Homo sapiens: one gene and its partners. The protein of the gene in region 2 purifies or fractionates together with the protein of the main gene of each other region. This does not show direct contact. Each region holds a gene or a part of one and is shown on either strand. Other genes may lie near its edges.

Region 1 (3,500 bases), on a different chromosome or scaffold from region 2:
TCGGACACCGAGCTGCAGATGGAGGGCAGCCCCATCTCCTCCTCCTCCTCCCAGCTCTCCCCACTGGCCCCCTTTGGCACCAACTCCCAGCCAGGCTTCCGGGGCCCCACGCCCCCCTCGTCACGCCCCTCCAGCACCGGCCTGGAGGATATCAGCCCAACACCCCTCCCAGACTCCGACGAGGACGAGGAGCTCGACCTGGGCCTTGGGCCTCGGCCTCCACCTGAGCCAGGCCCCCCGGACCCTGCTGGGCTTCTGAGCCAGACAGCTGAGGTGGCCTTGGACCTGGTTGGAGACAGAACCCCGACCTCAGAGAAGATGGATGAGGTACCACCGTGTCTGTCCATCTGTCTGGGACTGGTTTTGTCTATCTTGTATCTCCCTTTCCCCCTTCAAGCATTTAGCATGACTAGCTAAGATGCGGAAGCAATGGGGCTAGGAAAGCCAATATAACAGGTGGAACTTACAGAATAAAAAGGGGATGCAGAAAACACCAGGGGCTGTGATTGAGCAATTGGTTTGGCAATGAGCTCCCTAGCAGCCGTGGAGAGAAGGAAAGCATGGCCTAGTTCTGATGCTCTCCTTGTTAGGTAAGAAGTCAGCTTTTCCTAGGGATAAATTCTGGCCTGAGCTGCTTTGGTAGGCGTTTGCTGAGAGTTCAGAGAGTATGAGCTGTGGGGATGGCTCTTGGTCCCCTTGTCTGTTGCGTGGCTTGGGAATGATCAGGGAGAGTCCTGGCCCTCAGGCAGAGGGGAGGAGAGAGATTGGCCAGAATACTGTGCTGGGCTAAGTGGGGTGAAGCCCCGGAGCATTGTCTCCTAGAGCCTGGTGCCCTCTGAAGAGGGGGAAACCATGGCAGACAGGGAGGGTGCTGGTTTCCCTTCTTCTCCCACTGGCTCCAGGGATGAAGGAGTTAAGAGCTAACTTGGGGTGGGGGTGGGGTGCCATGTAGCCAGAAAAAGGCAAAGTTGACCATCCCCCACCCTCTCCTCAGGTCATGGGGTCTCGTTGCCTAAACCTCCAGCCTCAGGAAGTCCCGCCCAGGGGTTGGGGGTGAGGGTGCCACGTGCCAGGTTCCCCTGGGAGGGTGTTGGGTCATCTTCCTTGGCTCCACTCCTCCTTCTCGGTCCAGGCACCTGCCTTGGAGCCGTAGTCCCGGTGGGCATGGGCAGTCAGGGGCTTAGACAGAGCTCTGCGTCCCTGTGGGCGGAGGGGAGGAGGACTGCCCCCTTCTTGGGCCCTTTGATTAGGCGGGTCTGGCTGCATCAGGGAGGAACGAGAGGAACTTGGCTTGCCTGGGAGGGTGCTGCAGGTGGCTGGGGCTCCAGGGGGCCTCCAAGCAGTTCTGGGGAAGTGGTTTCTGGCATCAAGGGGTCCAGGCAGGGGGCCTTGGCAGGGGGCGTTGACAGGTGTGCAGCTGTAGGGGGGCCGCCGGCCCTGGCACCCGTCTCCTCCGCTCCGTCTAGGCTGCCTGGGGTGAGGAGTGTTTACCATGCTGACCACGGTCCAGGGCTGAGAGGCCCGCAGTGGCTGGAGCGAAAGGCAGGCTGAGGCCCCGGGAGCGAGGGTCTGGGACTGCCCGGCCGCCAGCGCAGGGAGTCGCCGAGTGCCGGGAAGCTCCGGGCCGGCCCGCGGGCGCCCCCTGCTGGCGCCGGGGAATAGCGCCTGGGCTTTCTGCGGCCGCGCGCAGTGCGGGGAGCTGGACCCCGTCCCATCCTAGGTGGGGGAGCGGCGCAGGCGGGGCCAGCCGAGGGTGCAGGGGGGGCTTTTCTTCTAAACAGTGGCTGGTCGTTAAAAGTTCAGGCTCAAGTTCTTGAGTCCTGCCAAGTCACTTACTGGTTATGTGACCCTGGAAAAGGCACTTTTGCCTTTCTGAGTCTCAGTTTCGTCATCTGCCAAATGGGCCTGTGAGAGTCCCTGCAGCACAGGACCTCAGCTTAAGTGAGGTGCCGCACAGGATGCTCCCGGCACCGCCAGGCCTGCTGGACTCCCAGTTCTCAGCAAATTCCTGCCGCTTCTCACCCCGAGACTGCTGGGCAGAGGGAGGGGCAGGGCCGGCCGGGGCTGGAGCGCAGGATCTGCCTCCCTGTGATTGGCTGGCGGCGGCGGCCCGGGTTAACCCTCTGTGTGCCGCGGCGCGCTGTGCTCGGCTCTGTCCAGGACTGATCTGGGGAGTGCTCTCTGAGGATCCACCCGAGCCCGTCTGTCTCTTCTTGATGTGCATGGGGATCCTGAGAAGGAGAGTGTGTGCGTGCGTGCGTGTGTGTGTGTGTATGTGTGCACAGAGGGGACCTGGTAAAGTCCAGAGCTTCCTGCCGCTGCCTTAGTTTGGGTAGTCTCCGTCCTCCTACCCCGCTACCTGCAGTTTTCCTCTGAGGCCTTCCTCACCTGTAGTCTGACCTCTGATCTTGCAACTTGCACAGACTCCACCTCCACCCCCACTCCCCCTCAGCCTTCAAAGGTCCCCCCACCCCAAGTCCAGACCTGTCCACTCGGCTCCCTAAAGCCCCACGCCCATCCTTGACACCTCCCACATTTACCCCTCACCACCGCCCTGGATCCCAGCTGCAGCCCCGCACTGGGCAGGTCCTGGGCTCCAGACCTTCTTCTGACTGGCTGTGCCGCGGGGCCACGGCTGAGGCTCTGAGTGTGTTTATTAACTGTCAAATGGGTCGGAGCAGAGCCCCCCGCCCTGTGAGGTTATCTTTCGGATAAAAAATGAGGCAGCCGTCTGCAGCGCTTAGCCCCACGCGGGCCCACACTGATTGTGCAGTCACGAGACTAGGTGAAAAGAGTAATCAAGGAAAAATAAATAACAACACACTTCCTGTTTATGGGCCTTAGTGCTGCTAAACCCCCGCTCCAATGTCACCTTTCCTGCCTGGCCGTCTGCCGCAGAGTGAGGACAGCAGGGTGACTGAGAGCACAGGCTGCAGAACCACTTCCTGGTTCAAATCCCGGCTCCATCTCTTCTTGGCTGTGTGGCCTTGGGCAGGTTACTTAAATTCTCTGTGCCCCAGTTTCCTCGTGGGGCAAAAATGGAGTTGAAAATAGGGCTGTTCTGAGGATTAGCTGAGTTAATAAATGTGGAGCGTTTAGAAAGGCCCTGGCACATAAGAGACACTATGGAAGTGGCAACTATTTCTGCACACAAGTTGCAACAGAATCTCTGAAATTGCAACAGTTTCATCCTCTGTGCCCCACCCGTCTCCCTGCCTTCTTTCTCTCCCTCACGTTTCCCGTATTCACCCTCATCATCCTTTTGCCTTTTCCTGCTGGCTCCGCTCCACAAGAGTAAGATGTTTGCCTGCCTCTTCAACTTTGTGTCCCCAGCACCTAGACCAGTGCCTGGCACACAGGTACTGAGCAAATGTTTGTTGAATTGGAATGAATGAATGAATTCTAGTGGTAACTCCATGAGGCAGGGACTATGATGCCCATTTTGCAAATGAAGACGCTGAGGCTTGGAGAGGCTGAATGGCTTGCACTGGGTCACACAG
Region 2 (5,224 bases):
CTGACCAACATGGAGACACCCCATCTCTACTAAAAATACAAAATTAGCCAGATGTGGTGGCACATGCCTGTAATCCCAGCTACTCGGGAGGCTGAGGCAGGAGAATCACTTGAACTCAGGAGGCGGAGGTTGTGGTGAGCCAAGATTGCGCCATTGCACTCCAGCCTGGGCAACAAGAGCAAAACTCTGTCTCAAAAAAAAGAAAAAGAAAAAGAAAAATCAGCCAGGCATGGTGGCACATGCCTGTAATCCCAGCTACTTGGGAGGCTGGGGCAGGAGAATCGCTTGAATCTGGAAGGCAGAGGTTGCAGTGAGCCGAGATCGCACCATTGCACTCCAGCCTGGGCAACAACTGTGAAGCTCCATCTCAAAAAAAAAAAAAAAAAAATTTAGAAAAAAGGAAAAATATCCAATCAGTCTTAAAAAAAAAAAAATCTGGATATTTGAAACGTATCATTAAAGAAATCACTTAAAAATTTAAAAATTCTGTCATTACCTAATTCAAGTCAAAATAAAACACAGCATATTAACACATCTATATATATATATGTGATAGAGCATATACACACATATATGCTCTATCCAAAATAATCACTGTAACTGAAAATATGTGCACTGGGGAACAAGCTGGAAAATAACTATATATATTTTCCAACAATAATACAGATTTAATATGCTTTAAAACGAAAGCAAGGATTTGGTTCCAGCTGACAATCTTAATTTGGCTCTTTGGGAGAAAATAATTTACCATATGAACTGCGAATCTTATAAAATTACCTAATAGTTCATGGCAAAGATCATGTGTCAAAAACTCTTTAAACATGTCTAAATATTTCTCTTTCAAGATGCACAAAGATTCTCTATGAAACCTAACAAGAAAAGAGGTGACTGTGGAAGACACTGAGGCATGCCAATCCAGTCTCCAAATTTAGTACAGTTGTCCCTCTGTATCCATGGGGTATTGGTTCCAGGATTCCCTGCAGATACCAAAATCCACAGATGCTCAAGTCCCTTATAGAAAATGTCACAGTATTTGCATATAACCTACACATATCCTCCTGTATACTTTCTCCCTTTTTATTTTTTGACCTAGCAGGGTGGTCTTGCTCTGTCACCTAGGCTGGAATGCAGTCGTACAATTCTGGCTCACTGAAGCCTCAACCTCTCAAGTCTCTCAAGTAGCTGAGACTACAGGCATGCGCCATCATACCCAGCTAATTTTTTCATTTTTTATAGAGATGAGGTTTTGGCTATGTTGCCCAGGCTGGTCTTGAACTCCTGGGCTCAAAGCCATCTGCCCACCTTGGCCTCTCAAACTGCTGGGATTACAGGTGTGGGTCACTGTGCCTGGCCCCTCCTGTATACTTTAAGTCATCTTTAGATTACTTGTAATACTTAACACAATATAAATGCTATGTAAATCGTTGTTACATTGTTTTAAAAACAATGACAAGGGAAAGAGTCTGTACAAGTTCAGTATAGATGTTTTTCCAAAATATTTTTGATCCATGGTTGGTTGAATCCACAGATATAGAACTCATGGATACAGACGGCCAACTGTACCTCTGCTGAAGAGATAAAACAATTTTAAAGTGAAATGAATTACTCCTTCCCCCCTAAAACAGCTGATTTTCAATCTTCAACGTTTTGGTTCTATTAACTTGCTTATAAAAATGTCACACTCTCTATTAAGACATAAGGAGTTAGAAAATCACTTTAAAAATAAAGTTGCTTGTTGTACAGGTACTAACAAGCATTTTCTGAAATGGAAATTTGTTTTTTATTAACCTAATACAAATAAGGTTCAAGCACTGTATTTAAATATTTAAAAGATAGAGGAGTTTCTTAAAATACCACATATGGTGCTCTTTCTTGTGAGCTTGCTTTTCTCCACAATTTGGCAATTTGCTTCACTCTAGTAGTCCAATCTGCAACAAAAGAACAGAGTATAACACTTTCTCAGAGCCATGCTAATGATGTGTTGTAATAAAGAATGTTGATGAACTGCTGACAGTTAATCTTATTCAGGCCGTATTCTCATGAGGTCATAGACCTATATTAAGTTTTTTACAAAGAACAAAGATCGTGGCACACTGTAGGCCAAACAAACGTTTTCTAAATGAAGTGCTGCCTTATTAACAACGTAGCTTGTAAAGTTGGGAAGTTTTTAGATTCAAGGGACAAAGTAGCAAAAATGCAAGCCAGACATAATAAATTCCCTCTGGTGGTAAGACACCACCAGAACCAAAGTACAAGTTTGTAAAACATCTGTGCTAAACAGAAATCTATCAATTTGACCTACCAGAAGTAAACAAAGTCATAAATAAGCATCTCACTAGCATTTGTGGACAACAAACACATGGAAAAGTAATGAGTTCAAACCATTTATATGAAACTCAGTGTCATGACGGTATACAAAATGAAGAAGCCTGGGTAAGATCAACAGTTAATGATAAATACAGAAATTATTTATTCCACATTACAAAAAGAAAGCAAGCTTCCAAAAAGCCAATGAAAATGAAAAATCAGTTCACAGACCAACAGCTTTAACACAGTATTTCATGAGGTTCTTGAATCACAAAGTAAAATTATTAAAGAAAATTACTTTTAAAAAAGTTACAGCTCTGCTGTAAGGACAATTTGTGCTGACACAAAATGACAACATACCCATGTACGTTCATAAACAGCAAATGTAAGCATGGAAAGAAAGTGGCTGAAGAATGGGATACTGCCTTCACAGGTCTCCCTGCATCAAACCACTGATTTCTATTGTTAGATAAAAAGCATTTCATTTATTACAATACATAATGAATAAAGTCCCATGAAGACGCCAATCCAAAAAGGTACCTAAATACAGGGGTCATCCAAATGAAAAGTCACTTCCAGGTACCCCTCTAGTAATTTAAGAGTTTGTGTATTGATAGATAGCTGGGAAACTATTGCAAAACTGAGTTTGAATAACTTTTTCAATCCTAGTTTGTCTGATACCATGAACTCAAAATAATAAAACCGCATTGCTTGCATATATTCAATAATTGACATTTCATTAATCCAAATTTCTCATTCACTGGTTAATCAGAATTTTCACAAACTGTACTATTATCATCTGTTTTTTTCAAGAGGCAGTGGTAATAGCTGGGCAGTCAGGGAAAGTGAGAGGGGAAGAAGGGAAGACAATATTGAATTCGTTTCATAAAAACACTATTTAGGATTCACTGATTTAGCCTAGCAGTATTTTTGATTAAATGATAGTTTGGGTTCTAGAAATTTTTTAAAGAATCACATAACACGGATTTCTGCATATTAATAAGTACTGCTAGGAGCTGAAAAACGGACCATTTCACTAATTGAAACTAATTTTTGGGAAATATGAGGATGGATGCAGGGTCTAGGACAAAGTAAAATGCAAGATGTTTCTAGACATCTAGGGAATCTTCATGTTGTGGGTCATCATAGACAAAAATTAGTTAAGCTACCTTTCTATTGCAGTTAAAAAAAAAAAAGGTATTGCACATGTGAAAATGTTGGTAAAACAGAAATAATATATTCATGGCTTACCAGGGAATTCTTCCTTTAAGTTGGGGAAATTAATATTGGTGTAGAGAACTGGGGCAACAGTTGCCATTTCACCCAGAGCCTCCTCTTTCTCCCACTTAAGCGTGCTTCTCTGGGCATTCGACATTGTGTCATTTTCTCCTTCCACAGTGGGAGCTGATGATGTCCAAGAGTTGTTAGGATCACTTGCCATTGGATTAAAGGCTGAATTTTTATCCCTGGGAAAAAATAAATATCTTTACTTTATGAACATAAAATAACTTCTTAATATATGTTCAAGTATAGCTTTCATTAAAACCTATTACAAAACAGTTAAAAGTAACATATTTATAGCAAAAGCCACAATAAACGCAACATACAATAATATCATACACAATCATTTAAGCAGACTAATTTATATATAAATCAAACAGAAATTAGTGCAATTTAAGTTTCCATAGAAAATAAGGCTTGTACCTGGCATCAGGATAAGAGGATTGTGCAATTGCAGAGAAAGTTCCCAGTCCGCTTCCAGGTGGCAAAGAATTATGTGGGAGATGAGGACTGGATCCAATAAGGCCATTCATGAGAGGCATCCGTGAAAAAGCATCTTCAGAGAAAAAAATAATTCCGTTGGCATGATATTCACAAGTAACAAGGAGTTGAAGTAAAGCTGGCCCTTGAACAACATGGTTTTTAACTGCATGGGTCCACATAAACACACATTTTTTTCAACTGAATGTGGATAGAAAACACAGGGAAACCCATGCATAGAGAGGACCAACTTTTCTTGTATGCCAAGCTCCATAGGGCCAACATTTGACTTCTGTATTCTCAGATTTTGGTTATACCTGGGGGTCCTGGAACCAAAGCCCCAAGTACAGAAGAGATGCTTATACTTCTAAATCAAAACCTTTAATGCAATTTAAAAGTAGGATTTTTTTCAGTATTTTATAATACTTAAAGAGTGACTTTTGGCTATAAGATTTTGAAATATGATCTCTACAGCTGTGATTATTTCATTATTGTGTACTAGAAATAGCAAGTGTTCTGGAGTCCAAAAGCCCAGGGTGTGAACCTCAATTTTACCTGTTAGAAGCAGAATCAATTTCTATTTCTGTAAACCGTAGGTATTCTGTTATTTGGGTTAATTGAGATAATGTATGTACAGCTCTAAACATAGTTCCTGGTATGCAGTAACTATTCGACACAATTAACTCCTAAAAAACACTAATGAATCACAGCAAATGCTAGTAAGTTTTATCAAATATTCTTTCTCTTCATTAAAAATTTACAAACAGATGTTTCTTATATTTTATTCCTGTTCCTCTTAATACCAAAAAAAAAAAAAAATCTATGATTCTTTCCTTTTTTTTTTTTTTTTTTTGTTTTTGAGATGGAGTCTCACTCTGTCGCCCAGGCTGGAGTGCAGTGGCAAGATCTCAGCTCACTGCCACCTCTGCCTCCCAGGTTCAAGCAATTCTGCCTCAGCCTCCTGAGTAGTTGGAATCACAGGCACTTGCCACCATGCCCAGCTAATTTTTGTATTTTTAGTGGAGGTGGGGTTTCACCATTTTGGCCAAGCTGATCTCAAACTCCTGCCTCAAGTGATCCACCCACCTCAGCCTCCCAAAGTGCTGGGATTACAGGTGTGAGCCACTGTGTCCACCCCACCTATGATTCTTAAATT
Region 3 (3,500 bases), on a different chromosome or scaffold from region 2:
CAAATCCCTTAGCTGAAATCATAATTGTTAACTCAGCTGCTGGTAAGATTAGCCTTGCATCCTTGATAATAACTTCTGGTTGTATAGGTTTAGTTTACAAATTATACCCATGGGCCTTTTCTCTTAAAAAAAAAATCTTTTATTCCTAATCCATTCATTTCAGGCTGAGTTTCATGCTTACATAACAAGGAAAAGGTGGAACCCAATACTTATACAAACACGCAGGCGTCTTAGGAAGATGTTTTTGTTTCCTTACCTCCTGAACGCCTTCCTTGAAGGTCTCTGAGAAGGTCGAGTCTGGAGTTCGCCTTTGAGCATTTGGGGCTTGAGCACCAGAGCTGAACTGGTCAGTATTGAGATTCCGATCGAAAACCACCACCCGCTCAGTGGGCTCAGGATGATACACTGCTGGGGGGATTCCCACAGCGAAGCCATGTGGCTGGGTTTCTGTCTTGATGGAGTGGGTAGGCATCGTTGCTATGGAGACAGTGACTGTCGTATCTGGAGCTGTCAGATGGCCTCTCTTATCAATGCCCAGCTGGTTGCCATGGGGAAGGACAATGTTAAATGGCACATTTTTCAGTACTTGCACTCTGTTTTCTCCAGCAGAGATGAGGGGCTGCTCTGTCACAATTGGTATGCTGTTTCTTTAAGAAAAGAAAACTGCTTTCAAACGCGATGCTGATGTAGTTCTTTGACAATTTTTATTTTCCTAATGGCATTGGGCTGTTGGGTCCTGTGCAATAACACTTGACAGAATAAACAGAAAACATCAAAACTACCCATTACTAGATAAAGGGAAAAAGGCTTTCTGGTTATCGGTCAAATAAAATCCAAACCTATTAAGTAAAATTTCATTCGAAATACTAAGGGCTCAGAGCTCTCCTCTAACAAGCTTTACTTTCCATAATCCTAAAAACAATTACTGTGTTTTACTAGAAACCTGAAGCTATGCGATCTGATCAACTGGGGTTACAGCATAGACGCCAGGGTCAAATTGCCTGGGTTCAAGTTCTGTGTCACCTGAGCAAGTTACTTCATCTCTTAGTAACTGAATCCTCATCTGCAAAATGGGGACAATAATGGCATCCATTCTCATCAGGTTGAGATGAGATGATACACTAAAAGGTGTATAATAATGCCTGACACACAGTCTTCAAGAAGTATGAGCTATTATTACTTGGTCACCACTTTTCCTACCACCTATGCCATTTGGCTTTCTCCTTTTTTTTTTTTTAATTTTTTATTTTTTTGAGACAGAGTCTTGCCCTTATGGCCCAGGCTGGTGTGCAATGGCGTGATCTAGGCTCACTGCAACCTCCGCCTCCCGGGTTCAAGCGATTCTCCCACCTCAGCCTCCCGAGTAGCTGGGATTACAGGCGCACGCCACCACACTTGGCTAATTTTTGTATTTTTAGTAGAGACTGGGTTTTACCATGTTGGCCAGGCTGGTCTCGAACTCCTGACCTCAGGTGATCCACCTGCCTCAGCCTCCCAAAGCGCTGCGATTACAGGCATGAGCCACTGTGCCGGGCCTGGCTTTCTCTTTCACCCAAGAAAACCTATTGTTACATTGCATCAGTAGACACATCTGCTTTTTATAAAATTAAATTTTGGTTTGATAAATAATTTGAGCAATACAAGATGATTTCCAGTGGGTAAAATGAATGAATTTTCAAAGCCCCCAGAAATCATATAGGCTGAAGCTTCAAGAAACAGGCAAATTGAGAATTCTGTACATTTCAAGATCAATAAAACTGTTTGAACCCTGAACCATAAATTCACTCCCAGGAATTTATCCTAAAACGGAAAAAGTCTAGAAAGTTGTTCCTTAAGACTTCTTAATAGTGAAAACTAGATATAGCAGCAATTGTAAGGATATTTACAGTTTGCTTCAGAATGTTCCAGCAAAAATAAATAAAATAAAAACATGAATTAATCTCAAAGTTGAAGAAGAGGGAAGAACAAATCAAACAAGAGGAATTGTGTTGATAACTGTTGAGGCTGGTCATGGATACATGTGGGCTTATACTGTTTTTCTATTTTTATTATGTTTGAAAATGCCCATAATGAAAAGTAAAAGATAAAAGCCACAAGTCCTCTTCCAAAGGATAATTATGAAGATTAAAATACAGAGAAAATGTTTATGAAACAAACTAAGTAGAAGAAAGTACACTACCAAATCCTATCTGTGAACACAACTACGCTACATAAAATTTGCATACACATCAAAACAATGAATAAAGCAATCATCACGATAATGGGATACTGGGTGATGATCATTCTTCCTTTAAATATGTTTCATTCCTTGATTGATAATAAAACACAAGACAATTTAAAAGGTGTCTTTTTAAAGTTTTTCATGGCTAGCCAAACGTTAATTAAATTTTCTGAAAGTTTTAATCTAAAATATTTCACAAATAATTTCAACAGGAATTTGAATACAATTTAACTTGCTTTATTCAATTTTACTCAGGCAGTTGTTCAAGAGTCACTGGTGCTTAATTTTTTTAATAGACCACTGCCACACATCCTTCTAAAGAAAACCTCAAAAACAAATAAGCAAATACTGAAGTTATTACTAAAACTATCCCTTTGGAGGAGGAGAATGTTAGTGCTTTCATCCTAGAAAAGGCAACTACTACGCCCAAAGAAAAAAGGAAATTTCAGAGCAACAGAGGCAAATCAGTGATGAAATCTGAATTTAGATAGTAAGAGTCCAACTTACCTATCTCTTTCACTAGTGGTTGTTCATTTAAACAAACTCCCATTTTGCTGTTACAGAAACGTGGCATTTCCCCCTGCACTCTTTATGCTGTTAGGCACTGAATGTTACCTTTTGCTGTGATCTGGCTCAGGGTGCTCCACCTCTGGCTTTGCTGTTGATGACCTTCTCTCTCTTGGAACCTGATATTAGCACACATGAAAAGAATTTAGCTCTTATCCAGTGAAGTGCAGTTTACCCAAAGATACAGCCTTTTATTTTTCAGTAAATTCAATCATTCATTTATCTACTGGTTGCCTAGCAAACACCAGGCTATGGGGACACACAAATTATAATATCTGCCCTCAACGAGCTTAAAATCTAGTCACCCATCTGGTTGATATGTAAAAAGCAACTGTTATTGAGTTGCCAAATAAACTCAGGGCATGATAAATTTATTTTGTCATGGAGTTTGGGTCTCATCTCTTAAAAAAAAAATACCTCCGCTGGCCACAGCTGGTGGCTCATGTCTGTAATCCCAGCCACTTTGGGAGGCCAAGGTGGGAGGATTGTTTGAGCCCAGGAGTTCAAGACCAGCCTGGGCAACACAGTGAAACTCATTTCTACAAAAAAAATTTTAAAATTAGCCAGGCGTGGTAGCATGTGCCTGTAGTCTCAGCTACACAAGAGAGACTGCGGTGAGAAGATCGCTTCAGCCCGGAGGCAGAGGTTACAGTGAGCAGAGATTGCGCCACTGCACTCTGGCCTGGGCGATAGAGCAAGACCCTTCCTGACT
Region 4 (3,996 bases), on a different chromosome or scaffold from region 2:
ACCCAAAGCTAGCGAGAGGGCAGCCTCCAGGCACCTCTCACTAACTCCTCCCAGAGGCCGTTGAGGTGGGTCTGGTCAAACCCATTTGCAAGTTAACCCACTTGCCCTGGGCTGCCCAGCTGCCACGTTAGTGGAGATCTGAGCGTGGTGGCCTGCGCAGGAGCCCATGCCCTCAGCCCCACAGCCGGTGCTCTCTGGTCAGACCACCTCAGCCTAGCCCCACACCCAGCACTTACCCCAGCCCTCGGGATGGGTCAGCAGCCTCCAGCCTGCAGCTTCCAAGCCAGCGAGTAGCCCTGTCTGGACAACCCACCAGCCCACCACCTCCTGGAGGATGCCCCCAGCCTCACAAGGTGTCCCAATGGCTCCGCTATCAACGGCCTGGCTGCACTCCAGATCTCACCCAGACCCACCCTACGGAGGAGGCAGCAGGGTTTGAGGAGTAGTGACCACGGAAGTCTGGCCGTCACCTGGGAAGTGTAGGTGATAGGAGCCACTGGTAAACAGAACTGATTTATTTATAAAGTTCACGCTCCCTTGAAGAGGTGTGCCCCACACAGGCTTCTCCCTAGCAGAGCAGCAGTGCCCACAAACCCACCCCAGGGTGGGCTGTCACGGGGGCCTCACGCCAGGGACCCCGCCCCTCAGGGACTGCTCGTGTCCAGATCTTGGCCAGCATGGAAAACTCCAGATAGTGGGGGCAGGGGTCCAGGTCATCTTTATTACGCCCCAGGTCAAGGGTTCTTTGTACAAAAATAGGTCTCCGTTTGCCAGCAGTGTCCCTCCAGCAGCTCAAGTTAATGTGTAGAAAATGGATTCTCTGTGCCCTTAGAAAATCCTCTCCCCTCCGGAAAAATCTCCAAGTGTTGGTGCCCCCCGCCCCACTGCAGTCGAGAAGCTGTGGGGAGGGGCGGCGTCGGAGGAAGCCGCCAGCCCTTATGGGGCCAGCTCCAAGCCCGTTTCCACCGCGGCATTGGTCAGGCTGGGCCGGACGAACGAGGCGGCGTCGGCGGTGCGGGGGGTGGTGGGTGGGTCCCCGGCTCGCTGGGGGCGGAGCGCGGGCCGGTCCACCTGGCGGGCTCCCCGGCGATGAGCGCGCCGGCCGCTCGCTCGGCTTCCGGGGCTGAGGCTGCGGGGGGAAGGTGGGGAACCAAACGCGCGTCAACGCGGGCGCGGGCCCGGGGCAGACCCCGCCCGGGCCGGCCCTGCCCGCACCTCCCCCAAGCGAAGTCGGCAGTTTCGTTTGCTCGGTTGGTTTTGGAGTCTTGAGTCCGTGGGTGCCGCGACTCGGTCTGAGACACGGCGGGGGCGGGGCGGGCGCTCGGAGCCGCGGTGAGTCAGGGCTCCGCGCCCGCCGACTCATTTCTGCCGCCCCGGCCCGGGAGCGCGATTTGCAATGCAAAGTCACCCCGCCTCCAGCACCCCAATCTGCCCCAGGATCCGCCAGCACTAGAGACCTCAACGGCCCGACGGCCGCTCCCCTCCCCTCGTCTACCCCTCCCTCGTCGGCGGCTGAGCCGCGAGGGGAAGTTTTGCAATCCCGGACAAACAAACGCCGGTCTTGCACGGGCTTGAAAAACTTTGGGGGAAATGAAGAGTGAGCGAAATCGAAGCCATCGCTCGGGCCTGGCGCTCGGCTCCGCGGGCTCCTGGGGGCGCGACCCGCCGGGCCTGCCCACCCCGTCCCTCCACCCCGGCCCCCGGCCCTCCCTCCTCCCTGCCTCCCGGCTGTTACCTCATAGGTCGAGGGCGCTCAGTAGCCCCCTAACCAGCTGGAGAAGTCGAGTAGCTCGCGCTCCGCAGGACTCAGCGCGCCTTCGCAGCCGCTGTCGTCCGACGAGTAGGCGGAACGCGGGGAGCCGGGCTCCGAGCTGCCCCCGCGGCCCGGGGACGAAGAAGCGCGGGAGGGCGAGGCGGCGACCGGGGTGGTCCCTGGCGGCCCGCGGGGCGCAGACGGCCGCACGGCCTGCGGCCTCAGCCCTCCCGCCAGCGCGTTGCGCACGGCGTCGTGCTCGGCCAGCAGGCGCTGCAGCGCGCGGATGTACTCCACGGCTGAGCGCAGCGTCTCCACCTTGCTCAGCTTCTTGCTGGCGCCGCCGTGCGGCACGTGCTGCCGCAGCGCCTGGAAGCCCAAGTTCACCAGCTTCACGCGGTTGCGCTCGCGCTCATTGCGCCGCGCTACGGCCGCTGCGCCGCCTCCGGTCTCTGCGGTGGCCGGTCGCCGCCGCCGGCTGCAGCGCAACAGTTCCGGGGACGCGGGTCTCCGCCGGGCAGCGCAGCCGACAGGGACGGGGGGCGCAGGGGGCGCGGACCTGGGCAGTGTGCCGCCGTCCATCGCGCCTGCATCCACCCGCCCGCTCCAGGTCCCGGCGCGCCGCAGGAAGGTGCAGGCAGAGGAACCGGAGGCGACGGGGAAAACTGTGGCGCCCCAAGGGGGCTTCTGGCACGGCGCCGCCAGGCAACTCCCCAGGGCACGCGTCCTAGGTCGTCTGGAGCCCGGGGATAGGAGGCCTAGTGGTGGCAGGCCGTACGCGCCAGGGAGCGTGGGACGCTCGTGTCCCGCGCGTGCGGCCGGACTCTCCCAGGTCTCCGCAGGCGCGGCGCAGGCGGCTGGTTTTTAAATGTATAGATAACCCTCCTCCGCGCCGCCGCCGTCGCCTTTCTCACGCCCTCCTTCCTTCGCCTCGCCCTCCCGCCACGCTTCGCCCTCCCCCTCGCGCGATCACATTCTGTAAGGCCCAAAGCGTGCGCATGTCCCCCTAGCCCATCCCCCGGACGCAGTCCACAGATCCCCAGTGCGCCCAACTGGCGAAATCTGCGAGTTCCCGGTGCGCCCCCTGCTCCCGGCAGGTGCTTAGTGCGCCCCCAAAGCAAGGTACGCAGGTCCTGGGTTGAGCCTTCCCGTACCCCCACCCTAACCCCGCGCGCAGCCCCGCCAGTCCCAAGAGCCGCCAGACCTTCGCACGCGCAGCGCGCGCTGTGGGAGGGAAGGCGCGGCCCTGGCGACAACACGGCTGTTCGGGAGGCGCGCAAGATCCCCGGGGGCAGCACGCGCCGCGCAGCCCACACCCACGCCCCACCCTCCTGGGGCCGAGGAGGCGGGGGCCAGGGTCTCAGCCAATCGTGGGCCACCCGTTTGGCCAATCGCGCAGGGCGCGGCTCCACGCCCGGCCCCATTGAGGAAGCGCGTACGCGTGGCGCGTGGCTCACGGGGAGCATCGCTAACAAAGCTGGGTTCCTGCTGGGCCCCGCCCTGCTCCTCGCCCCCGCGACTGGGCTGGGCGCGCTGTCCCCTAGCGCAGCTATGTCCCGAGCGCGCCCCCACCTGTGCGTTAATCTACTGGGAATGGGGGTGGACTGCGCCTTACCTGGGGCGGGGTGGGGCTTAAGGAGTGGTCGAGACTGAGGCGGGGTGGGAGGTTCAGGTTCCCGGGGCGCCTTCCCCAACCCGCCCCGCTTTCCCCGTCCCTCCACGCGCACCCTGCCTGTGGTTTCCGTGCGCCCCCGGCCTGAGGGCTCTGGGCGGCACCTTAACCCGGAGGGCCTGGAGGTCTGCACCCGACCGCCTTGTGCCAGGACGGTCAGGTCCACGCCCTCCCCCACCGTGGCTCCCTCCATCTGCAGTATCCCCCACCTCCAGCCCGTCCTGCCCTCCTGTTCTCCGTCTCGCTTCCCGTCGGTGCCTCCGGGATCTCACAGCCCTCGCACCTCTTTTGTGACCCAGGCTGTTTTTCTGCACCCCCCTCTCCCCTGAGGGCACTGAGATTGGGCCATTGGCCTGAAGGTCTCTGGGAGCAGCACCCTTCCAGGGGAGGTGGGACGTCGAGAACTTCTCCCTAAGAGATGCGGGGAAATGGTGGGGCCTGAGAGTGCAAACACTGCAGAAATGCGAAAAATGTAGTGTTAACGGAAGAGTTTAGGTCCTGCCTCACTGTCCGGGAAACGCGTGCCCTCGGGGGAGCCTTTGCCAAGCCGGTTTTTCCCGAAGGTGACCAG

What was found. Proteins that work in one complex are often made in the same cells at the same time.
Region 1: the proteins of KMT2C (region 2) and SETD1B purify together in Homo sapiens (affinity purification with mass spectrometry, with the first as the bait; one large-scale study listed by BioGRID). This does not show direct contact.
Region 3: the proteins of KMT2C (region 2) and GRHL1 purify together in Homo sapiens (co-immunoprecipitation; one large-scale study listed by IntAct). This does not show direct contact.
Region 4: the proteins of KMT2C (region 2) and ASCL2 purify together in Homo sapiens (affinity purification with western blotting, with the first as the bait; one study listed by BioGRID). This does not show direct contact.

What each region holds. Positions count from the first base shown.
Region 1 is NC_000012.12:121,810,509-121,814,008, forward strand, and holds part of SETD1B (histone-lysine N-methyltransferase SETD1B), read left to right. Parts: coding exon 1-327; intron 328-3,500. UniProt on the Homo sapiens protein: Histone methyltransferase that catalyzes methyl group transfer from S-adenosyl-L-methionine to the epsilon-amino group of 'Lys-4' of histone H3 (H3K4) via a non-processive mechanism.
Region 2 is NC_000007.14:152,183,704-152,188,927, forward strand, and holds part of KMT2C (histone-lysine N-methyltransferase 2C), read right to left. Parts: intron 4,145-5,224; coding exon 4,012-4,144; intron 3,774-4,011; coding exon 3,559-3,773; intron 1,929-3,558; coding exon 1,855-1,928; intron 1-1,854. UniProt on the Homo sapiens protein: Histone methyltransferase that catalyzes methyl group transfer from S-adenosyl-L-methionine to the epsilon-amino group of 'Lys-4' of histone H3 (H3K4).
Region 3 is NC_000002.12:9,958,193-9,961,692, reverse strand, and holds part of GRHL1 (grainyhead-like protein 1 homolog), read right to left. Parts: intron 2,908-3,500; coding exon 2,837-2,907; intron 2,820-2,836; exon of another isoform or gene 2,729-2,819; intron 648-2,728; coding exon 257-647; intron 1-256. UniProt on the Homo sapiens protein: Transcription factor involved in epithelial development. Binds directly to the consensus DNA sequence 5'-AACCGGTT-3'.
Region 4 is NC_000011.10:2,267,998-2,271,993, forward strand, and holds ASCL2 (achaete-scute homolog 2), read right to left. Parts: upstream 2,592-3,996; 5' UTR 2,336-2,591; coding exon 1,754-2,335; 3' UTR 1,736-1,753; intron 1,130-1,735; 3' UTR 501-1,129; downstream 1-500. UniProt on the Homo sapiens protein: Transcription factor. Binds to E-box motifs 5'-CANNTG-3' in the regulatory elements of target genes, probably as a heterodimer with another basic helix-loop-helix (bHLH) protein such as the transcription factor TCF3.